7 linked regions of the Homo sapiens genome follow. The protein of the gene in region 2 purifies or fractionates together with the protein of the main gene of each other region. This does not show direct contact. Each region holds a gene or a part of one and is shown on either strand. Other genes may lie near its edges. The genes, in order: AHCY, OCA2, ATIC, RCC2, LTA4H, HMGCS1 and TMEM59L.

Region 1 (3,500 bases), on a different chromosome or scaffold from region 2:
TGGCTCTGCTTGGCCAGCGTCCTTTGCTCACAAGAGGCTCCTGGGAACCCCACACCTGTGCCCTAGTCATGCCACATGGGAGGAGTGTGGGCTGGTGGTCAGTAGCCCTCAGTTCTGGTGTCTATTCTGGAATTTCATTTAGAGTGGCCCAAGTGCGTCTTAGCTCCTCTCTGGGCATCTGTAAGTGATGATAATGGTCATGGCTGCCTCACAGGGTTTCTATGAGGAAGAATGAGATGGGGTATGGAGGATTTAGAGTCATGTCTGGCAGAAAGCAAGTACCCCACACATGGTAGCTGCTCGTAGTCATTTTTTGGCCAGACTTTGCCTGAGATTCCCCCACACAGAGGCTGCTAGTGCTCCAGTCCTTTCAGTGCAGAGCAAACCCTGGATCCTGCCGTGTGGATCCTGCTGAGGGGGAGGCGTTGTGGGGTATCAAGCCCTGGTCACTCAGGGTTGATGCCTCAGTCCTTGGCGCCCAGGCAGAAGGGGATGGGAAAGGAAAGAATGATTTCCTGATATCTATATCTGGGGCGGGGGGCTGTACATGGCTTCTGTCTCACTTAATCCATACTATTGTGAGCCCTATTTACAGAGGAGAAGACTGAGGCTCAGAGAGGTGAAGTGATTTGCCCAAGGTCACACAGCTGGCAAGTGGCAGAGCCAGGGTTTGAACTCAGATCTATCTGGCTCCAAGTTGTGTCCTGACCACTGCTGAGTTTTCAGAGGGGCCGGAGGTGGCTGGGGATGGGAGTTGGGAAGGAGGTAGTTTTGGCTCTGCCAGAGTTGTTCCCTGGAGCAGGTACCAGTTGGGAAGTCCAGGCCCTGATGTGCCACTCACCCTCCAGTGTATGCCTGGAAGGGCGAAACGGACGAGGAGTACCTGTGGTGCATTGAGCAGACCCTGTACTTCAAGGACGGGCCCCTCAACATGATTCTGGACGACGGGGGCGACCTCACCAACCTCATCCACACCAAGTACCCGCAGCTTCTGCCAGGTGAGCAGGGCGGGGCAGGTGGGCTGGGTGCTGGTGGCCTGGGTGGGGCCTGTTTGCCCACATGATGGCCGCAGGCCTGGCAGGACTCCCATCACCTCAAGCAGCAGGATCTGGAAGATGGGAGGATGGCAGGCTCTGGCATTCATGCTGGGGCCTCCTGACTTCTGAGGGTGCGAGGCTAGGGCAGCTGAGCTGATGGCCCAAGGGCAGGCACAGACAGGGCCATGGTTGGGAATAGCTGGGAGGGAGCCAGCTTTGTTCAAAGCAGGTACGCAGAGTGCAGAGGCCCTGAGGCAGGAATGGCTGGAGTGTTCAGGAAACAGAAAAGAGGCCCACAGGATAGCAGTGAGCAAAGGGAGCCTTCACTGCGGGTATGGTGTGAACTTCGTGAAGACCAGATGTGTCAGGGCCTAATAGGCCAATAGAAAAGTGTTTGACCTGATTTGCAGAGCAAGGGGAAATAACTGGAGGGCGTTGAGAAGATTTCTCTGAGAAGATACATGTTAGAAATGGCTGCTGCATGGAGGATGGGTTGTGGTAGGGAGACTGGGAAGAAGCGACAGGGTCACGGACTAGAGCAGCGGCAGTGAGAATAGAGAAGCTGGGAGTTGTTCGGAGGCAGAGTCACTAGGCCTGGTGGTGGCTTCCCTGTAGGAGGGCGTTGGGGACTCCTCCCTCACGCGGGTCTGGGTGATTGGGGGGCCTGTGGGATCAGTCACAGAGATGGGAACCCAGAAAGAGGAATGGCTTTAGGGGGTAAAGATGAGGAATTTGCATGAGCACAGGTGTGGCATCTCTGAGGCTTGTCCTGTCCCCTCTTGTTTAGGCATCCGAGGCATCTCTGAGGAGACCACGACTGGGGTCCACAACCTCTACAAGATGATGGCCAATGGGATCCTCAAGGTGCCTGCCATCAATGTCAATGACTCCGTCACCAAGGTGAGCCGAGGGGCAGTGACAGCTCCCGCTACAGTGGCTGCAGCTCAGGACGAGGCCTCTGAAGAAGAGTGCCCAGGAAGGCTGAGATTAGGGACATGAAGCCCTCATTTGAGGGGGCAAAAGCGGTTATAGACAGGCTAATGAGTGCGTTTAAAAGGGGTGTCAGAGCTGGGTGTTAGGAGCTTTATGGCTTTGGGAAGAAGAGCTTTCAAGTTAAGCAAGGTCTTTGACCGGGCAATCTCTCCTAGTAACTGATGCCTAGGAAGGCTCCACACTGGCAGAGAAAGATTAGAGAGAAGCTCTTTGAGCCGATCGGGGTGAAGGGCTTGTGGGGGCATTGGGTGCTGGAGGGGTTCAGCCCAGGCCGGGATGCTTGGTGGGCCCATGATGCCTGGGCTCTTCAGAATACTCTGAGGCCAAGTTGTCCTGGCCCCAGGGCCTTGCCTGCCCCTATTGTCTCCTTACCCCCTTTCCTTTCAGAGCAAGTTTGACAACCTCTATGGCTGCCGGGAGTCCCTCATAGATGGCATCAAGCGGGCCACAGATGTGATGATTGCCGGCAAGGTAGCGGTGGTAGCAGGCTATGGTGATGTGGGCAAGGGCTGTGCCCAGGCCCTGCGGGGTTTCGGAGCCCGCGTCATCATCACCGAGATTGACCCCATCAACGCACTGCAGGCTGCCATGGAGGGTAGGATAGGGCAAGGGTTGGTTGTCAGCCACTGGGGCCAGAGGGAGGGGCAAGGCCACCGTAGATGACCCACAGCCACTGTCTCTGCACAGGCTATGAGGTGACCACCATGGATGAGGCCTGTCAGGAGGGCAACATCTTTGTCACCACCACAGGCTGTATTGACATCATCCTTGGCCGGTAGGTGCCAGATGGGGGGTCCCGGGGAGTGAGGGAGGAGGGCAGAGTTGGGACAGCTTTCTGTCCCTGACAATCTCCCACGGTCTTGGGCTGCCTGACAGGCACTTTGAGCAGATGAAGGATGATGCCATTGTGTGTAACATTGGACACTTTGACGTGGAGATCGATGTCAAGTGGCTCAACGAGAACGCCGTGGAGAAGGTGAACATCAAGCCGCAGGTGAGAAGCTCCCGCCTTGCCAGTGGGCTGGGCAGATGGGAGTGCAGAGGAGTGCTGGCTGCCAGGGAGGAGAGCTGAGGAGATGGTGGCAACCTGTGCAGGGGGATGGGGAGAAGAGGGCCTAGCATCAGAGCCAGCCAGACGTGGCAACCTTATCCTGTGGGCAGCCGGCATCCCTGAAGGTATCAGGCAGGTGAGCTGTATGTGGTGAGGCTGTAGTTTTAGAAAGATCACTCTAGCTACTGTGTGCAGAATAAAAGCAACAATGGCGGGTGGTGGGGAGAGAGGCTTTTAGAGGAGGCTCGTAGAATCCCTGCAGGGGATGATGGCAGCCTCAGCTTAGGGAGTGCTGGGGTGGATGGACGGCATGTGGGGTCAGGATGGAGGCAGAGTAACAAAGGACACAGCTTTGGCCGGGCATGGTGGCTCACACCTGTAATCCCAGCACTTTGGAAGGCCGAGATGGGCGGATCACC
Region 2 (2,971 bases):
AGTCAGACGCTTGACACACAATCACTTCGGAGCAGTGTCCCCATTTTCATTCCAAGGTGTCATGCACAGAAGATCAGAAACTGAAGAAGGGCTTCTTCCTCTGGGGCATAGCCATGATACTGATGAGGCAGAGCAGAGGAGACCTCGCAGGAAGCACAGGGCTCCCCCTTGGTCTTTGTTCTCATTACCCTTACCTCACAAGGAATGCTTCACAAAAGAACTGCATTTAATAAACACCGACTGAGCCACAGCGTCCTGCAGGGAGAGCAGGACTGAGGGTATCGAGTGTACGTCTGTGTAATTGATGGAAATAGCATGCACCACTTGCAAAATGGAAAAATCATTACTCTAAGCTGTTAAATATGTAAGATATCCTTAAAAGATACCTATGATCTTCTGCAAGTCAAATTTCTGGACTTTTAATTAATAACTTTAAAACTGCAGAGAAAAATATAAATGGATAAAATGCAATTTTACATAATGTAAACTACTCCAAAGCCTTTTATCAAGGAACAGTTTATTTTAATACATAAAATGTTTCCTTACGAGCAGTAAACCTTTTCCCAGAAAGTCTATATTCAGAAAGCATACAATTTGAATGCTGATTATTTTAACATGAAAAGTGATTACAAGAAAAACAAACTGTGTTTAGCCTCAGGAGAATTGACAGTTAAACAGTACAGTCAATTTTAGGTGGATGTGTGTCTTTTCCTATGTATAGCAGGAAGGGTTTTTAAACATACGTATTTTTCTGGAGGGGAATCTTGAGTAAGTTATCTCACATCTTTCTACATTTTGTCCTTGGGGAGAAAGGACACACAGAGGAGGTCATGGTGTTCCAACATTCGCTTGAATTAGAGTGTTAGTGTCAAGGTCTATTCCACTGTGTCTCTGTAGCATCTCCAGGGTAAGCACCTTTTCTTCTTCAAACAGTGGGGTCAGGGTAGTTTTATGACTAATGGGTTGTGATGGATGAAGTTTCCTTTAGTCTTCGAGCAATAGATGGATGTCTATTAATTCCATCCCACCACCACATGAGCCACAAGGAGATAACACATCCCAACAGTGCAGGACACAACCATCATTGGGAAGCCCAGCCTGAAATACAAAGAGAAATGAGTTATGGCATCTGAAATCTGGATAATCTCATGAGATACGGACTCATAGCTCATGAGAACATGGCCTTAGCACCTTTGCATTTTCACAATGGCCACTACCTTTTATTTCCATAAATCAGGAAGTTAGTTTTAGACTAAATTATGTGAATGCATGCTTCTATTAGACATCCTCCATTGTGTGCAATTTTATTTGAGAACTGCTTAAGGTTTTCTCAAATTTTTAATGGCTATATGGAGCCTCTGTTTGTTCATCTATATTAGACTGTTGGTCTTTCAATGCCATGTGCTGGGCCACCATTTAAATCTCTGGATGTTTCCTCTACTTGTGTCATCTTCCAACTTTTCTTCTCTGGAGATTTCCCAGAGATCCCAGCTTCCAGCAGGCTCCTGAAGTCCCTCACACTTAAGGCCAAGGAGAGCTTGATAAGTAGTGTTGGAAACTAAGGCCAACTGTTGTCTAAGGAAAGGCAAAGGGAAGAAGAAGTTTTTCTTCTGTAGCCGGTGAGGTGTGAGACGTGTGGACAAGGAGGGTATGCACAGATACAAAAGCAGTCATGAGAAGAGAGAAGCATCCCTCATTGTGTGCCTCCTCCAATGTACACACATCTCCACAAATTCCTACCCCAGCTTCCAGGCACTGACAGATGCCACTTGGCATGGGTAATGCACGCTCTGTAGCCATTGCTCAGTGCTGCCTGGTCACTAAGGGAAGCCCCTGCAAATGTTACAATTTTGGTTTCAAAAGGCTTAAGTTTTAGCAGTAAGAGCCTAGCATGTGGCAATTATAAAGACATTCTCTCTTCCCTGGCCATAAGTGTAGGAAGAGGCTACTCAGAAAGAGCCACAGCAAGGGTTCCTCAACAGAGCTACAATTAAACACAAAAACTGATTCCATGAGCGAGACAGCTCCCGAAATTATAGAGTAGACTTGGGCATTTCAAGAAAGTGGTAGGATTCTCTTGGCTTCTCTTCTGAACACATTTTATTTTACAAAACAAACAAAAAGAAACACAGAACATATTTTGGGAAAACTACTTAAATTTCTTGAACTTTATCAACTTTGTTTTTGAAAATAGCTGAACATGTTTGCAAAATGTCAGCCCTGATCATTGAGTTCTGGAAAAACACAACCCACGACAGTGTCTGGTCAACTCCAGGCATCACAGACATCACTGCAAGCCTTCATGGAAGCACAAAGCCTTCGTTCCTCTGTGACAGATTGTGTAGAGTGAGTCAGTGTCAGGTAAGATGCCGAGAATCTCAATCCGGGTGCTGAGACACCTGGCCATGTTTTAGAAGCAAATTTGCCTGCCAAGGGGTGAATTCCACAAAAAGCAGACCTTGCTTGAGAAGCCCAAGACTGGAGAAAGTTCCTGGTGGGTGGTTTTGCCGTGCTCCCAAGTGAGAGCCACTGATGTCTTGAGGATGGCACCAACGCAGAGAAGGAGCATCACCTAGCATCACCAAACATTTTCATTTCACCCAGAACTGATGCAATCACTCAGACCCATCAGAAACCCTACTCTCCCTCACAACACCTAGTCACTGTGACACTCTCCATGCACAGGACCCTCTCAACTGCCCACAGTGCCTTCTGGAATTGGCATCATCACACCTACTGCAGAGGTGGGATGTTGAGAGGTAAGCAGGCTTGCCTGGGTCTCTCAGCTAGTTTGCTCTGGTGTGACAATCCAAATGCATCAGTCTAACTCTAGTTAGATTGTGTGATTAAGAGTGATTAAGAGTGTGTACTCCTAATCACTACATATGCTGCCTCCCTGTGGACATGGATAAATCATAACAATGGCAACCTGCCATTAGTAGGTAAATGACTTACTGAATATCTGCTGTAT
Region 3 (3,500 bases), on a different chromosome or scaffold from region 2:
TAAATAAATAAATCAGGAAAATAACCCAGATGCATCTCTGCATACAAAAAAAGCTTAGAAAATATAAATGAAAAAAAGAAAATATAAATGAATTATAGTAATCCCAAAACACAATCCAGAAGTAGCTATTTTCTTTCTATTTCCTCAGTAATAAAATTCAAAATGAAATCTCACTAAAATTTAAATAATCCTCTCCTCTCAGTCTTCTAAAATGGTTTTTCTGACTTACCAATGTCAATTTGCTCCACAGCCTCCTCAACAGTTACACCTGGAGAAGCCACTGTCTTTACAAAGGGATAGAGATTGCAGGCAACAACTCTATAAAACAAAGACGAATCTGGCTGTCATTAAAAAGTCCACTCATGTGGTTTACAGCTATCTAGGAAAAAAACAAGTCAGTACTATTAACGTAAACAAAAGCCATAGAGAACTAATATATAAACTGTGAGCCTGACATTTTAGAATTCTAACGAGTGTGTTAAAAAGTCAGGGTGTCCTGCTGGGGTCGAGCAGAGGTAATTTAGTCAGCAGGTGCTCCCCGGATCTGAATACACAGTACTCCCTCCACGTCACACTGCAACGCTGCTGCTTGCATAACCTTAGCTACCCAGAACCACCAAGCCATGAAAAATTTATAGAACATTTTAATAGAAGTATAAAGTACAAGATTACAGATAACATTCTCATTTTGGAATGTGATCACTATTATCCAGAACATTAGAATTTAGATTCTTTTTCCAGTGGATTGGCACAATGATGAAAAATATCAGAGCATTCTAAGGGTGAAACATTTGTTTTGCCTTCAGAGAGGTCATAAAAATGATGGTAACAGGAATGCCAAAAGAATAATTTAAAATACAGAAGTAATCTAAAATTAACAATCAGTGAAGTACAGTTCCACTCCTAGGCCTGTAGTGCGAGGAGCTCTACGGGCAGGCTCCAAACAAGCCTAACTGCTGAAAACTAATTAAAAAAAACAAAAACAAAAACAGAAGAACAGAATTGGAGGGGAAACATTTTGCAGCTCATCTTTATTAAGTCTACTGCCCTCCTACTAAAACCAGACAAATGTCACAAGAAAACTAGAGACCAGTATCTCTTAGGTATCTTCACACAAAAACTCTCAACAAAACACTAACAAACTGAATCCAGAAAAATGCAAAAACCACCTGATCATCTCAATAGATGTACAAAAAGGATCTGACACAATTCAACAGGTATTCATATAGAAACACTCAGCAAATTAAAAATAGAAGGGAACTTACTGAACATGACAAAGTGTAAGAAAAACCCACAGCTAACATCATACTTGATGGTGAAAGACTAAAATACTTGTCTACTCAACTCAGAAACAAGACAAGAGGCCAGGCGCAGTGGCTCATGCCTATAATCCCAGCACTTTGGGAGGCTGAGCCAGGCAGATCACCTGAGGTCAGAAGTTCGAGACCAGCGTGGCCAATATGGTAAAACCCCATCTCTACTAAAAATACAAAAATTAGCCGGGCAAGGTGGCGCACGCCTGCAATCCCAGCACTTTGGGAGGCTCAGGAGGATGGATCAACTGAGGTTGGAAGTTCAAGACCAGCCTGACCAACATGGAGAAACCCCATCTCTACTAAAAATACAAAATTAGCCAGGCAAGGTGGCACATGCCTGTAACCCCAGGCTGAAGCAAGATAATCACTTAAACCCGGGAGGCGGAGGTCACAGTGAGCCAAGATCACGCAACTGCACTCCGCCTTGGGCAACAAGAGCAAAACGCCATCTTAAAAAAAAGAAACAAAACAATAATGTCCATTCTTACCACTTCTACTGAACACTGTACTAGAAGTTCTAGCCAGAGCAATTAGCAAAGAAAAGAAAATAAAAGGCATCAGGACTGGAAAGAAAGCAGTGAAGTTATATCTATTTGCAGATGATACCACCTAGTATACAGAAAATCCCAAATTCACAAAAATAACCTTTTAGCACTAATAAATGAGTTCAGCAAAGCCGCAGGATATATGATCAATATATAAAAATCAATTGTATTAAAATATACATTAGCAGTGAATGAGAAAAAAATTAAGAAAACAATTCTACTTCACAAGACAATGTTAAAGAAATTAAAGACACCCCATGTTCACAGACTGGAAGATTTAATATTCTTAGGATGGTAACATTTCCCAAATTGATCTACAGATTCAACACAATACCTATGAAAATTCCAACTGCGTTGTTTTGCAGAAATGGACAAGCTGATTCTAAAAATCATGTGGAAATGCAAGGGACTCTGAAGAGTCAAAGTCATCTTGAATAAAAAAAACGAAGTTGGGGCCGGGCGCAGTGGCTCACGCCTGTAATCCTAGCACTTTGGGAGGCCGAGGCGGGCGGATCACGAGGTCAGGAGATCGAGACCATCCTGGCGAACACGGTGAAACCCTGTCTCTACTAAAAATACAAAAAAATTAGCTGCGCATGGTAGCGGGCGCCTATAGTCCCAGCTACTCGGGAGGCTGAGGCAGGAGAAGGGCGTGAACCCGGGAGGCAGAGCTTGCAGTGAGCCAAGATCGCGCCACTGCACTCCAGCCTGGGCAACAGAGCCAGACTCCGTCTCAAAAACAAAACAAAACAAAACAAACAAACAAACAAAAAACAGAAAAATGAAGTTGGAGGACTCACACTTGCTGATTTCAAAATTTGTTACCAGCCTATAGTAATAGTGTAGTACTGGCATAACAGCAGGCACATGGACCAAGGGTGCCAAGACCATTCGATTGGGCAAAGAACAGTCTTTTCAACAAATGATGCTGAGACAACTAGACAGCCACATACAAAATAAAATAAGACTTCTATTTCATGTCTGTATATGAAAATTAACTTAAAATGAACCAAAGACTTAAGTATAAGAGCTAACACTAAAATAACTCTTAAAAGAAATGTACACACGCCGGGTGCGGTGGCTCACACTTGTAATCCCAGCACTTTGGGAGACCGAGGCAGGTGGATCACCTGAGGTCAGGAGTTCAAGACCAGCCTGGCCAACATGGAGAAACCCCGTCTCTACTAAAAACACAAAAAAATTAGCTGGGCGTGGTGGCGGGCACCTGTAATCACAGCTACTTGCGAGGCTGAGGCATGAGAATCGCTTGAACCCAGGAGGCGAAGGTTGCAGTGAGCCGAGATCACGCCACTGCACTCCAGCCTGGGCAACAAGAGCGAAACTCCATCTCAAAAAAAAAAAAAAAAAGAAAGAAAATATACACAAAAATCTTCATCACTGAGGATTAGGCAATGGTTTCTTAGACATGACACCATTAACACAAGCAACAAAAGAAAAAATAAATTCAACATCATCAAAATTAAAAACTTTTGTGGGCCGGGCATGGTGGCTCAAGCCTGTAATCCCAGCACTTTGGGAGGCCAAGGCGGGCAGATAACCCGAGGTCAGGAATTCAAGACCAACCTGGCCAACATAGTGAAACCCTATCTCTATTAAAAATCCAAAAAAATTAGCCAAG
Region 4 (3,500 bases), on a different chromosome or scaffold from region 2:
CTCAGTTTGGCAAGAGGCCAGGTGGTCTGCCTTGGGGATGGGGCGTGGGGTGGTGGAGTTCCCCTTGTGACTCTTGGTCAGGATCAGAAAGAGGCCCTGAGAACCTTGGCATGGAGTGGCTTCTTGAGGGCATTGGGAGCCTCCCCAGTGGCCATAGGAGGCCCATCTGGGAGTAGGAGACGCTGCCCTCTGTTTCTCTGCACACCCAGTTTCTGATGTGAAATGGCTTTGCTGTGAAGCGTCTGCACTGCCAGCTTTTGGGCAGTCTCACTTGCCTTCTGCCTGGCAAATGAGCTGTTTTTATTATTTTGATGCCTTTGATTCTAAATCTAGTTCAAAACATTCACCATTATCTTCCCTTTTGTGATATTTTTCCTTTCTTCCAGAAACGGGCTCCGTGTTTGCGTTTGGGGAAAACAAGATGGGGCAGCTGGGCCTTGGCAACCAGACAGACGCTGTTCCCAGCCCCGCGCAGGTGACCCCTCCTCAGCTCCGGCTCCATGGCTTTTTGTTTCTCTTTACTTTTGTGTTTGATTTTCTAAGGTGGGGTCTCCGTTTGAGTTAATTTACCCCTTGTAAAAACAGGGTCTGGATGTTTAGTTACATGCTGTAGAGTTTTTTTGTTTGTTTTTTTGTTTTTTGTTTTTTTTTGAGAACGGAGTTTCACTCTTTTTGCCCAGGCTGGAGTGCAATGGCGCAATCTCGGCTCACTGCAACCTCCGCCTCCCGGGTTCAAGTGATTCCCCGGCCTCAGCCTCTGGAGTAGCTGGGATTACAGGCATGTGCCACCACACCTGGCTAATTTTGTATTTTTAGTAGAGACGGGGTTTCTCCATGTTGGTCAGGCTGGTCTGGAACTCCTGACCTCAGGTGATCCACCCACCTCGGCCTCCCAAAGTACTGGGATTACAGGTGTGAGCCACTGCACACAGCCTTGCTATAGTTTTTAAAACAGGCTTAGTTTGTGGTCGGGTTGAAAACCATCCTGAAAACATTTTGTTTCCAAATGGAGAAATCTGTTAGAAATGCCTTGTCGTAAGCCTGTTCTGTTCCAAAGAAAGTGAGTGATGTTATATGGATGTAATTGTACTTCCCCCAAATACTTTGTTTTGACCTTGTATAAAGTCACCAGCCAGATGCTTAGAATACAAATACGAGATAGGCAGTCTTTTTTTTTTGGAGGGGAGACAGAGTCTCGCTCTGTTGCCAGGCTAGAGTGCAGTGGCGCGATCTCAGCTCACTGCAACCTCTGCCTCCCGGATTCAAGCGATTCTCCTGCCTCAGCCTCCCGAGTAGCTGGGACTACAGGCATGCTCCACCACGCCTGGCTAATTTTTGTATTTTTAGTAGAGATGGGGTTTCACCATGTTGGCCAGGATGGTCTCCATCTCTTGACTTCCTGATCTGCCTGCCTCGGCCTCCCAAAGTGCTGGGTGTGAGCCACCGCGCCCAGGAGATAGGCAGTCTTTTTTTTTCTAAGAAACTTGAGTTGGAGGGGTGAGATTTATACCTTAAAAACAAACTACTACTAAAGGCAGAAGAATGCTAAGTGCCTAATTAGTGGTCTAGGTGATGAAGGAAGGGAGGGACTTGGTTTTATTGATCTTAAAGAGACAGTGGCTAGGCTTTGAACTGCTCTGTGCTGGGAGGGTGGGGGTCTGAGGGTGCTTCTTTACATATCTTCTAAGCTTTGTGTTCTAGAAATGCCTTCAGCTTTTGCCTTCAGAATTACTGAGTTTATTAAACTTCCGTTTGTAACCTAGTAATTGTTTCCCACCAACATGCAGAGAGGTAGAGGCTTTTTATCAGTCTTTAAAAAAAATGAAAGTCTCCTTTCTTGTCTTTTCAGATAATGTACAACGGCCAGCCAATTACCAAAATGGCCTGTGGGGCTGAATTCAGTATGATAATGGACTGCAAAGGAAACCTCTATTCCTTTGGGTGCCCTGAATATGGTCAGCTGGGTATGGAAGTACATTTTTTAAAAGCTCTGTAATCTAACTGTATATATTCAGAACTAGAGATCAGTGTGGGGCTGCACACACGTGTTAGAAATGTGGGTAATTGATCTCAGATAATAGCCTTTGTCCGTTAAGTGGATCTCACGTTCAGCAGAACAGCGCGTCCTCATTCACAGGATTATGGAGTATTGCAACACTGCCTCAATGGAAAAGTTGGGACTGGAGTCCTACAAAAGATTTCTTTTTTTCTGATTTGGGAATTCATTTATATAAAGGGATTTCAAAGTTAAAAAAAAATCAGACCACCTTCATTCAATTTCACATTTAAAGATTATGCCTTTATTGAAAATGAGAAAATTACGGAAAATGAACGTTGTTCTGGAAACCCTGGCCTGGGCGATTATTTCGGGTTGCCACGTGAGGAGCCCTGGTGGACCCCCTCCCCGTGCGTCATCCCTAGCCAGAATCTAGTTGTCCAGAAACTTGTTTCTTCGATCTCATTGGTGGAAAAGGAGAATTCAGGCATCAGTTCTCAGTTAGTGGGGGGAGTGTCTTCCGACCTGATGGTCTCCATTCTCCTTCCCATCGGACCCTAAGTGCGGTTCCCTGAAGTGCGCTTCCCGGTTGTGGCTCTGCCTCCACTCCAGCCCCTCTGGGGAGGCCTCCGCGAGGTGTGGCGCGGGCGCCCTCTGCTGGCCGCGCGCGCTCCTGCAGCCGCAGCGCCTGGCAGATGGAAAAGGTAAAAATAGCGCCGAGCCCGCTGGCCTTAGCCTCGGGGAACAGTGACTTTGTGAAACTAAATATACTTCAAGTCAGAAGTGAATAAGAGAGAACAGCCCCTTACGCACATTTCACATTTCGCGTTGGTTGCCGTGGTGGAGCCCGAGACAGTTGGAGAGCGGTTTCCATGGCCACAGCCCTGCTGCGGTGCCCAGCAGCGGTCCGCTTCCTGCCACGTGCGCGCTCCTGCTGCCTTGGCCTCCCCTCTGCACCCCGGCAAGTCGATTTTCCGTCAGGAAGCATGACATGCTGTTGGTGATAAAAACGGCTCACTTTCATGGAGCAGTGACTGTGTGTGCCAGGCACCATGTAAGCACTTTGTACAAATTCGCAGGTGCTCAGTTACACTCAACTTGCAGGTAGTTTGGAAATCGGCTTGATTTGTAGCTACAGAATCGCTTATTCTCAGCGTATTACTTGCTTTAAGGCAGGTGTTTGTTTCGTTGTCCAAATCCAGATAGATCACTTTTAGAATGAACCTAAATCCGACTATGGCCGTGTCTCATCCACACACACTCATGCCTTGTGCCCCCTTTTTTGCAGTGCACTGAACTGGGCTGGGCAACGCCAAGATAAGAAAGACGGAGTCTCCCTCTGTCACCCGGGATGGAGTGCAGTGGTGTGATCTCAGTTCACTGCAACCTCCACCTCCTTGGTTCAAGCAATTCTCCTGCCTCGGTCTCCCAAGTAGTTGGGACTACAGGCGCCCGCTGCCACACCCAGCTAACTTTTTTTTGTATTTTTAGTAGAGACGGGGTT
Region 5 (3,500 bases), on a different chromosome or scaffold from region 2:
AAGTGCTGGGATTGCAGGAGTGAGCCACGGCACCTGGCCTGTGGTCATACTGGATGGAACCAATGTTAATAACGATTGGTGTGGCAGTACAGAAACACTTTGCATATGATATGAATGAATATGTCTAGATGGTATTGAAAGAGACTGTTCTTTCTCCCTTCTTTGCTTCTTTGTTTTACTTACAAGGTTTGCTGCAAGATTGAAGTGTCAGGATTACAGCAACATTTCTCAGGCTGTGTTCATTAGAATACTGACATCCCATTAGGTGTTAAACCAGAGAGAAATGGGTTTTGTGTTAACATAAATGTAAGAAATCAAACAGGTTTCTTTATTGTAGGTCTGTTCAGAGCCTTCAGGCGGCTAATATTCTAGTGGCTCTGCAAGACAGTGGTGCAGTATGCCATACTTCTCAGGTCTGTTTTGCTACAGAGCCCTTTTTTCTCAGGTTTCTAAAAGCTTCTCACTGGGCACTACTGTCACCCAGACCATAGAGTAGGAAACACTGCTTAAGAGTTTCTCCATGCTTCAACTGAAATGTGAGGGTTAACCATAGATTAAAATGGAAAATCTGATTTTTAAAAGTCCAAGAATCTATTTTTGGACTTTAAAAGATCCCAAAAGGCCAGGCGTGGTGGCTCACGCCTGTAATCCCTGCACTTTGGGAGGCCGAGGTGGGCAGATCACCTGAAGTTGGGAGTTCGAGACCAGCCTGATCAACATGGAGAAACCCCATCTCTACTCAAAATACAAAATTAGCTGGGCGTGGTGGTACATGCCTGTAATCCCAGCTACTCGGGAGGTTGAGGCAGGAGAATTGCTTGAACCCGGGAGGTGGAGGTTGCAGTGAGCCAAGATCATGCCATTGAACTCCAGCCTGGGCAACAAGAGTGAAACTCCGTCTCAAAAAAAAAAAAAAAATCCCAAGAAATGAGGACTGTTTTTATTTTAATGTCTAAGAACAATGCTGCAATTTTTAATGATTTCTTAATGACTTATGCGAAAGATAAATAGCTATTTCTTCTTGTTTCTCCCTTTTTCAGGCCATCCACTGCAGAGCAATCCTTCCTTGTCAGGACACTCCTTCTGTGAAATTAACCTATACTGCAGAGGTAAATATTACGAATTATTAACTCAATTAAATGATGCATATCAGTAAATATGGTATAAATGATAAGCAGAGATGATAATTGAATTCCTAGAGCTAGAATTATTTTTCTTAATGAAATTCTACCTGAAATATGTAAACAAAGAGGCTGTGGCACTCATTCTGAATCTCTACTTTAAAGGCAGTTTTAAACATTTTAACTGTGAAAAAAAGGAAATGGAAACCAATCTGACTTTTAAAAAGGAATTCAGGGCTAGGTGTGGTGGCTCACACCTGTAATCCCAGCACTTTGGGAGGCCGAGATGGGTGGATCACGAGGTCAGGAGATCGAGACCATCCTGGCTAACATGGTGAAACCCCATCTGTACTAAAAAAAACACAAAAAATTAGCCGGGCATGGTGGCGGGCACCTGTAGTCCCAGCTACTCGGCAGGCTGAGGCAGGAGAATGGCATGAACCCAGGAGGCAGAGCTTGGAGTGAGCTGAGATGGCACCACTGCACTCCAGCCTGGGCGACAGAGCCAGACTCCGTCTCAAAAAAAAAACCCAAAAAACAAAAAAACAAACAAACAAAAAGAAGAAATTCAGAATCCTGGATCTAGAAATAAGAACTTAGGAACAATTTTTACTTAACTTTTAAAAATTGACATTTGCATGATTTAAGTTTCTATAAATGCATTCTGTAGCCATATAAGCCTAGTGGGCATATATTCCAGACTTGTCTGTATGCAATTCCAACTTATTCCCTTGGTAGGTACTGCTAATCCTTTTTGGAAAAGGCGGACTGTAATTACTAAATAATCACTATCCCGGAGGCTAGACCTACTTAGACCAAGCAAATAGAATGAGGACCAACCCATATTTATGGGGCCTTCTTGCTTCCCAAATCATCCCACAACCAAATTACATCTAGGATAGTGCAGTGATATATTATACTTGGAGGCAAAGAATCCCAGGGCTCTGGCTCTTCTCCACCACTTAATAACTGCGTGAAGTCCCAACTACTTGGGAGGCTGAGGTGGGAAGATCACTTGAACTCAGAAGTTCAAGGCCAGCCTGGGCGACATAGCGAGACCCCATTTCTAAAAAAATAAATAAATAATGATGTGACACTTGAACAAGTTTTATGACCTCGCAACCTCAGCTGGCACATATATATAACGTATCACCACCTAAATGAAGGGAGGTGGCTGAACCGAATTATTTCCTGAATAGTTTTGTGCTTTAGAATCTACAATTGTTGTAGCACTGGTTCAGGAACTTCTAATTCTGTGCCTGCCTCAGTCACAGCTTTGGGTCCTGAGCCATGCAAGAAGAACATGAAAGTCTAGCCCCTACTGGAATATATTCTTGTTTGATCATTAATACTTGGGGGAGTCCTTTATTCTGGCATTCATCAGAAATCAAACTTTCAGAATCATGGAGCTAGGATACACAGTTAAATGACTATATGGTTTGCCGCATAAGGGTCTTTTCCGTATGGATTTCCAGAGAAAATTATTTGACAGTTTTTAGCAATAAATTTTAGTTTTTCACAGTTACTACTTTTAAAATGTTCCTCTATTTGTAACTCCAAGTGTGTGTTTTCAAAACAAAATTGTTCAAAACCATTCTGTCCTACAGTGAGTATATAACGTCCTTTTGAATCTGTTTTGTGAGTGTAGCGGGAGCAGGGATGGTGGCTGCCATTGCCAGGGATGGTGCTGGGCTCTTCACTTATATTATTTATTCCTTGCAGCAAGCCTTTGAAGTTTTACACTTACTTGATGGGGAAACTGAGGCTCGGGGGTTATATTTATTTGCCCAAGTTTGTGCAGTTAGTTATTAGGTGGCAGAGCTGGGATTTTAATCCAGTTTCTACCAAAACTCTGCTCTTAATGTGCATGGGTGAATGGATAGAAATTTCACATTCACTTTTAAAGAAGCCAGTTTCCCATATTGCTAATTTTATTTACAAAACTGATATGTATATGTGTATATATATACTTTTTGTATATGTGTTTTATATATATACACATATATATGTGTGCATATATATACACATCTATACACGTTGTGTTCATATATATGTGTGTGTATATATATACTTTTTGTATATGTATATACTTTTTGTGTTCATAGTCTGTTTATTAGATAGTCAAGAATGGGAAGAAAAGGTTATTTTACATATATGGTTTAAGACACATAGAAGCTTTTATTTATGACTAGAAATGATTTTTCTCCTTGATTAGGTGTCTGTCCCTAAAGAACTGGTGGCACTTATGAGTGCTATTCGTGATGGAGAAACACCTGACCCAGAAGACCCAAGCAGGAAAATATACAAATTCATCCAAAAAGTAAGATCCTAGGGTCTAGATTTTTGTTTTCATTGGCGGTAAACTACAGTTAGCTTGTA
Region 6 (3,500 bases), on a different chromosome or scaffold from region 2:
CATTAAAACTCCCCTCTGTTTGAAATATCTATAGTAATTTTTCTTTTCCTGACTAATACAACCTGTTAAAGAAGCTGAAGCTCTGGTAAGTTAAATGCCCAACAATGGTCTTGAGTAGCTAGTGATTTTTGTTGCTATTGGTAAGTAAATCTAGACACTACTTTTTAGTCCCTTTTTTAAAAGAGGACTGGTTTATCTATGATGAATACATGATTGATTGATTGATTGATTGATTGATTTTTACTTTTTCTTTTTTTTTTTTTGAGACGGAGTCTTGCTCTGTCACCCAGGCTGGAGTGCAGTAACATGATCTCTGCTCACTGCAAGCTCCTCCTCCCGGGTTCACGCCATTCTCCTGCCTCAGCCTCCTGAGTAGCTGGGGCTACAGGCATCTGCCACCACGCCCGGCTAATTCTTTTGTATTTTTAGTAGAGACGGGGTTTCACCATGTTAGCCAGGATGGTCTCGATCTCCTGACCTTGTGATCCGCCTGCCTCAGCCTCCCAAAGTGCTGAGATTACAGGCATGAGCCACCACGCCCGGCCTAATTTATTAAAACTTTCGGGTGGTCAGGTAATTCTGATTTGTCAGCCATATTTCTAAATTATCATTGTATTTTATCTTACAGTTCTTTACAATGTAGAAAATCTTATTTGAGTGTTGTTTACCTCTAATAATCATGTTTTAAATCTAGAGATGCCCAATTTTGAATAAAATGGAAGCCTTTCTAAAAGACTATAATTTTAAATGATAATATTCCATTCATATAATAATTGCTACTTCACATGTACACAATTGAGTGCCCTAAATACTAAACTTAAAGAAACTAATACTTCAGGTGATTGCTAAACTCTTAATATCTATTTCTCAATTTCAAAGTTGAAAACCAGCAACTTATAACCTAAAACAATTTTTTTTCTGTTTCTCCTTTCTAAAGCTCTTTCACCATGCCTGGATCACTTCCTTTGAATGCAGAAGCTTGCTGGCCAAAAGATGTGGGAATTGTTGCCCTTGAGATCTATTTTCCTTCTCAATATGTTGATCAAGCAGAGTTGGAAAAATATGATGGTGTAGATGCTGGAAAGTATACCATTGGCTTGGGCCAGGCCAAGATGGGCTTCTGCACAGATAGAGAAGATATTAACTCTCTTTGCATGACTGTGGTTCAGAATCTTATGGAGAGAAATAACCTTTCCTATGATTGCATTGGGCGGCTGGAAGTTGGAACAGAGACAATCATCGACAAATCAAAGTCTGTGAAGACTAATTTGATGCAGCTGTTTGAAGAGTCTGGGAATACAGATATAGAAGGAATCGACACAACTAATGCATGCTATGGAGGCACAGCTGCTGTCTTCAATGCTGTTAACTGGATTGAGTCCAGCTCTTGGGATGGTATGTTACATGCCTATTCCCCGCCGTCCCCCAAAATTTTTTTCTAAGGTTCAATAGACCCAGATGACACTTTAATTAATGCAATACGCAAACTTTTGTAATTTGTCCTTGTTTGGATATATTAAGAAAGATATTTTACCTGTCTGTCATTATCCGAATTGTGAATTGGTTATCTTATCTTGTAGGACAAATGGTCTATTCAAAATTTAGTCAGATGGATGACAGAGCCTTGGCAGATGAATTTTAAAAAAAAATTAGAGCATTTTCTTTCTTTATCAAAGAAGGGAAAAGCATATTCTGGGGAAAATATAACAGACTTCAGTTTCCATGTTTGGTTATAGTGTTGAATTCCTTCTTGTGAAATAACAAAAAATATTTTTCAGGACGGTATGCCCTGGTAGTTGCAGGAGATATTGCTGTATATGCCACAGGAAATGCTAGACCTACAGGTGGAGTTGGAGCAGTAGCTCTGCTAATTGGGCCAAATGCTCCTTTAATTTTTGAACGAGGTAAGTGCTTGGGAAAGCATTTTTGTTTTTTTTAGCACAATATGCTGAGAAATTTGAAAATAGAAGTAGGAGCTGTCGCTTACTTAATGGTCATTAAATGCAGGTACTACTTGCTAAGAGCTTTATGTGTGTTATCATATTTATGTTTTTTTTTCTTTTTTTTTTTTTTTGAGACCGAGTTTCACTCTTGTTGCCCAAGCTGGAGTGCAATGGCACGATCTCGGCTCACTGCAACCTCTGCCCCCAGGTTCAAGTGATTCTCCTGCCTCAGCCTCCTGAGTAGCTGGGATTGCAGGCACACACCACCATGCCTGGCTAATTTTTTGTATTTTTAGTAACAGGGTTTCACCATGTTAGCCAGGCTGGCATCGAATTCCTGACCTCAGGTGATCCGCCCCCCTCAACCTCCCAAAGTGCTGGGATTACAGGCGTAAGCCACCATGCCTGGCCTGTATTTAATCTTCATAGCAGTTTTATGAGGTAGGTGGTGTCATCCCCACTTTACAGAGAAGTGGGTTAATGTAGGGTTCAAATGATAAATAGTAACTTGCTGATAGTCACTGGCAATTTTAATTTGTCTTCAGTGTAGTAGAGTAACTGTGAACTGTTAGAGTTATGAAACTGACATGGAAAGTTGTATACCAAAGGAGTCTTAGGACTGTCCATGGATACTGTTATGTATCATTTCACTTATATTGGCTTCAGCTTGCGATTTCTCTACTGTAAGTGGTGAGAATTGATCAGATAGTTAAGGAAGGTCCTTAGATAATGCAGTATACTTATTAACATACAGACATCAAGAAGCAGAAATATATAGACATCTTCCTTTTTGGTTCTAATAGGGCTTCGTGGGACACATATGCAACATGCCTATGATTTTTACAAGCCTGATATGCTATCTGAATATCCTATAGTAGATGGAAAACTCTCCATACAGTGCTACCTCAGTGCATTAGACCGCTGCTATTCTGTCTACTGCAAAAAGATCCATGCCCAGTGGCAGAAAGGTAAGTTTTACCCATTTTCCTTGGTTTTGGTATGAGTTGAGAGCAGTCTAATGTACTAGGTATCTTTGGTAGGCAACTACTTTGTGGGCATTCTTCATTTAATATCCTTTTACCATTAATTCCTCATTCACCAAACAACATTTTCCCATAGTTTCTGGGAAAGTGTAATTTACTAGAAGAGGTAAACTTTGGAACTGAGGTGTATCTCTGCAAAAATATTTAGGTCGGTTTACCCCTTGTAAGAAAATCAAAGTGGAGAAAAGAAGGTAAGTTGAATTTTGTTCATCTTTTGAGAGAGGTATTTTAACAAGGTTTTGGACTACAGCTGTGATTCAGGGAAAGCTAATGAAAATGAATTACTAAAGTGATCTTACCCCAAAAATAATCTTTTTGCACTTGACCTGTGAATTTGTATTTGTTTTTTTACTGTTATCATTAATCTGGAAATTTGTTGAGGCACTGAAAGGACAGTATTTGAGTTAATGCTATCATAACACATTATTACATAAAGTATACTTTTTCTGTAGTCCAACTTTGCTTTTTAGAGGTTATGAGAAGGGGTTAAAAATCATATTCAATGACAAATATC
Region 7 (2,835 bases), on a different chromosome or scaffold from region 2:
TTTTTTTTGAGATGGAGTCTTGCTCTGTCACCTGGGCTGGAGTGCAATGGCACCATCTCGGCTCACTGCAACCTCCACCTCCTGGGTTCAAGCAATTCTCCTGCCTCAGCCTCCGAAGTAGCTGGGACTATGGGCGCGGGCCACCACACCCAGCTAATTTTTGTATTTTTAGTAGAGACGGTGTTTCACCATGTTGGCCAGGCTGGTCTTGAACTCCTGACCTCAGGTGATCCATCCGCCTCTGCCTCCCAAAGTGCTGGGATTACAGGCGTGACCCACCGCGCCCGGCCTATATATATATTTTTGAGACAGGATCTCACTCTTTCACCCAGGATGGAGTGCAGTGGCATGATCACAGCTCACTGCAGCCTCGGCCTCCCTGGCTCAAGCAATCCTCCTGCCTCAGCCTCCTGAGTAGCTGGGACCACAGTCACGTGCCACCATGCCCCGCTAATTTTTGTATTTTTTGTAGAGATGGGGACTATGTTGCCCAGGCTGGTCTTGAACTCCTGGGCTCAAGTGATCCACCTGCCTTGCCCTCCCAGAATACCGGGATTACAGGCATGAGCCACCTCACCCAGCCAGGACCTCACACTTGCTGCATGACTTGGGCCAGTTTCTTCACTGCCCTTTGAATTGGTGGGAAGAAAATCCACTCTTAGTTGGGGCGACATGAAGTCAGAGGTGGCCACACTTCTGTGGTGTTGGCCTCACCTCTATCATGCCCAGGTGTGTTGGTGACACCTCTGTGGTGCCCAGAGCCTGGGCAACATAGTGAAACCTTGTCACTACAAATCATTTAAAAATTAGCTAGATGTGGCTGGGCATGGTGGCCCATGCCTGTAATCCCAGCACTTTGGGAGGCCGAGGTGGGCGGATCACGAGGTCAAGAGATTGAGACCATCCTGGCTAACAAGGTGAAACCCCATCTCTACTAAAAATACAAAAAATTAGCTGGGCGTGGTGGCAGGTGCCTGTAGTCCCAGCTACTCGGGAGGCTGAGGCAGGAGAATGGCGTGAACCCAGGAGGAGGAGCTTGCAGTGAGCCGAGATCGCGCCACTGCACTCCAGCCTGGGTGACAGAGCGAGACTCCATCTCAAAAAAAAAAAAAAGAAAAAAAAAATTAGCTAGACGTGGAGGTGCATGTTTATGATCCCAGCTACTTAGGAAGCTGAGGTGGGAGGATCACTTGAGCCTGAGAGTTCGAAGCTGCAGTGAGCTGTGATGGCACCACTATACTCCAGCCTGGACAACAGAGAAGACCCCATCACACACACACACACACACACACACACACACACACACACACACACACAAAAGTCCAGGTGTGGTGGCTCACACCTGTAATTCCAGCACTTTGGGAGGCTGAGGTGGGCAGATCACTTCAGGAGTTCGAGACCAGCCTAGCCAACATAGTGAAACCCCATATCTACTAATAATACAAAAATTAGCTGGGCGTGGTGGCGTGCACCTGTAGTCCCAGCTACTTGGGAGGCTGAGAAAGGAGAATCGCTTGAACCTAGGAGGCGGAGGTTGCAGTGAGCTGAGATGGCGCCACTGCACTCCAGCCTGGGTGACAGAGAGAGACTCTCTCAAAAAAAGAAAAAAAATAAAACAATCAGAGGTGGGAAGGAGACAGTCAGGGTTGGGGGCTCGGCCTCTCCCCGTCCCTCCACTTCCCTCCTCCCCTCTCTTCCTGCAGCCTCTGACCCTGGAGCAGCACAAGGGCTTCATGATGGAGCCCGATTGGCCCCTGTACCCGCCGCCGTCCCACGCCTGTGAGGACAGCCTACCACCCTACAAGCTGAAGCTGGACCTGACCAAGCTGTAGGCCTCCACTGGCCCCATCACTGCCAACTGCAGGGGGCCCCTCGGGCCTCACTTGCCCTGAGCCCAGGAGTCCAAGGGCAGGGTGGGTCCAGCCTTGAGCCCCTCCACCCCCAAATCCTTCCTCTCCTCCCAGTCCCACCCCTTGCCCCACGGAGTCCTGGGGACGCAGTGCCCCAGCTGGGAAGAGGGCGGGATCGGGCACTGGTTCCTCCTTGTCCCCGCTTTCTTGGGGGCTTGCTACTTTTTGTCTTCTATTGTGTGGCTTTCTGAGTATTTGAACCCCAGTCCTGTGTCACCTTCCTTTTTCCTTCTATGTCCCCTCTCTGCGGGGGGGGCGCTGAGGCTGAGGGGGAGCTGCGTCTTGCTAGGGCTTCCCCCTTCTCCCCATCCCGGTCTCCAGAGACCCAGCTTCTGAGAGACAGGGTGTGGGCATCTCCATGCCCCTATAAAGCGTGCCTGGGGCTTGTCTGGGGCTGGGGAGGAATAAACCATGTATATAAAAGAGTTTCAGGCTGAGCCTGCTTCTGTTCGGTTGTCTGTCTGCCCTTGGGGTGTGGCCCACGCATGGCTATGACCCCTGCCGAGCAGGATCTTTCTGACATGGGAAAGCCCTGGAAACCCAGGTGGCACCAGGCACTGAAAGTAGCTGCCTCTCAGAAGGACACTCCCTCTGGTCTAACCCAGGTCACACTCCCAGCTACAGATGTCCCTGGAAAACTGACTCGAGGCCAGGCGCAGCAGCTCATGCCTGTAATCCCAGCACTTTAGGAGACTGAGGCAGGAGATTCACTGGAGCCCAGAAGTTCCAGACCGGCCTGGGGCAACATAGCAAGGCCCCATCTCTACAAAATACACACACACACACACACACACACACACACACACATATATATATATAATTAACTGGGTGTGGTGGCTTGAGCCTGTGGTCCCAGCTACTCGGGAGGCTGAGGTGGGAGGATTGCTTGAGGCGGGGAGGTGGAGGCTGCAGTGAGCTATGATTG

The links.
Region 1: the proteins of OCA2 (region 2) and AHCY purify together in Homo sapiens (affinity purification with mass spectrometry; one large-scale study listed by BioGRID and IntAct). This does not show direct contact.
Region 3: the proteins of OCA2 (region 2) and ATIC purify together in Homo sapiens (affinity purification with mass spectrometry; one large-scale study listed by BioGRID and IntAct). This does not show direct contact.
Region 4: the proteins of OCA2 (region 2) and RCC2 purify together in Homo sapiens (affinity purification with mass spectrometry; one large-scale study listed by BioGRID and IntAct). This does not show direct contact.
Region 5: the proteins of OCA2 (region 2) and LTA4H purify together in Homo sapiens (affinity purification with mass spectrometry; one large-scale study listed by BioGRID and IntAct). This does not show direct contact.
Region 6: the proteins of OCA2 (region 2) and HMGCS1 purify together in Homo sapiens (affinity purification with mass spectrometry; one large-scale study listed by BioGRID and IntAct). This does not show direct contact.
Region 7: the proteins of OCA2 (region 2) and TMEM59L purify together in Homo sapiens (affinity purification with mass spectrometry; one large-scale study listed by BioGRID and IntAct). This does not show direct contact.

Annotation. Positions count from the first base shown.
Region 1 is NC_000020.11:34,289,856-34,293,355, reverse strand, and holds part of AHCY (adenosylhomocysteinase), read left to right. Parts: intron 1-848; coding exon 849-998; intron 999-1,824; coding exon 1,825-1,937; intron 1,938-2,417; coding exon 2,418-2,625; intron 2,626-2,717; coding exon 2,718-2,805; intron 2,806-2,906; coding exon 2,907-3,024; intron 3,025-3,500. UniProt on the Homo sapiens protein: Catalyzes the hydrolysis of S-adenosyl-L-homocysteine to form adenosine and homocysteine. Binds copper ions.
Region 2 is NC_000015.10:27,754,375-27,757,345, forward strand, and holds the end of OCA2 (P protein), read right to left. Parts: intron 1,099-2,971; coding exon 1,014-1,098; coding exon of another isoform or gene 985-1,013; 3' UTR 501-984; downstream 1-500. UniProt on the Homo sapiens protein: Contributes to a melanosome-specific anion (chloride) current that modulates melanosomal pH for optimal tyrosinase activity required for melanogenesis and the melanosome maturation. One of the components of the mammalian pigmentary system.
Region 3 is NC_000002.12:215,322,059-215,325,558, reverse strand, and holds part of ATIC (bifunctional purine biosynthesis protein ATIC), read right to left. Parts: intron 319-3,500; coding exon 230-318; intron 1-229. UniProt on the Homo sapiens protein: Bifunctional enzyme that catalyzes the last two steps of purine biosynthesis.
Region 4 is NC_000001.11:17,419,178-17,422,677, reverse strand, and holds part of RCC2 (protein RCC2), read left to right. Parts: intron 1-386; coding exon 387-475; intron 476-1,849; coding exon 1,850-1,964; intron 1,965-3,500. UniProt on the Homo sapiens protein: Multifunctional protein that may affect its functions by regulating the activity of small GTPases, such as RAC1 and RALA. Required for normal progress through the cell cycle, both during interphase and during mitosis.
Region 5 is NC_000012.12:96,022,088-96,025,587, reverse strand, and holds part of LTA4H (leukotriene A-4 hydrolase), read left to right. Parts: intron 1-1,040; coding exon 1,041-1,109; intron 1,110-3,336; coding exon 3,337-3,441; intron 3,442-3,500. UniProt on the Homo sapiens protein: Bifunctional zinc metalloenzyme that comprises both epoxide hydrolase (EH) and aminopeptidase activities. Acts as an epoxide hydrolase to catalyze the conversion of LTA4 to the pro-inflammatory mediator leukotriene B4 (LTB4).
Region 6 is NC_000005.10:43,296,413-43,299,912, reverse strand, and holds part of HMGCS1 (hydroxymethylglutaryl-CoA synthase, cytoplasmic), read left to right. Parts: intron 1-937; 5' UTR 938-947; coding exon 948-1,395; intron 1,396-1,778; coding exon 1,779-1,904; intron 1,905-2,746; coding exon 2,747-2,911; intron 2,912-3,500. UniProt on the Homo sapiens protein: Catalyzes the condensation of acetyl-CoA with acetoacetyl-CoA to form HMG-CoA, which is converted by HMG-CoA reductase (HMGCR) into mevalonate, a precursor for cholesterol synthesis.
Region 7 is NC_000019.10:18,618,705-18,621,539, forward strand, and holds the end of TMEM59L (transmembrane protein 59-like precursor), read left to right. Parts: intron 1-1,703; coding exon 1,704-1,832; 3' UTR 1,833-2,335; downstream 2,336-2,835. UniProt on the Homo sapiens protein: Modulates the O-glycosylation and complex N-glycosylation steps occurring during the Golgi maturation of APP. Inhibits APP transport to the cell surface and further shedding.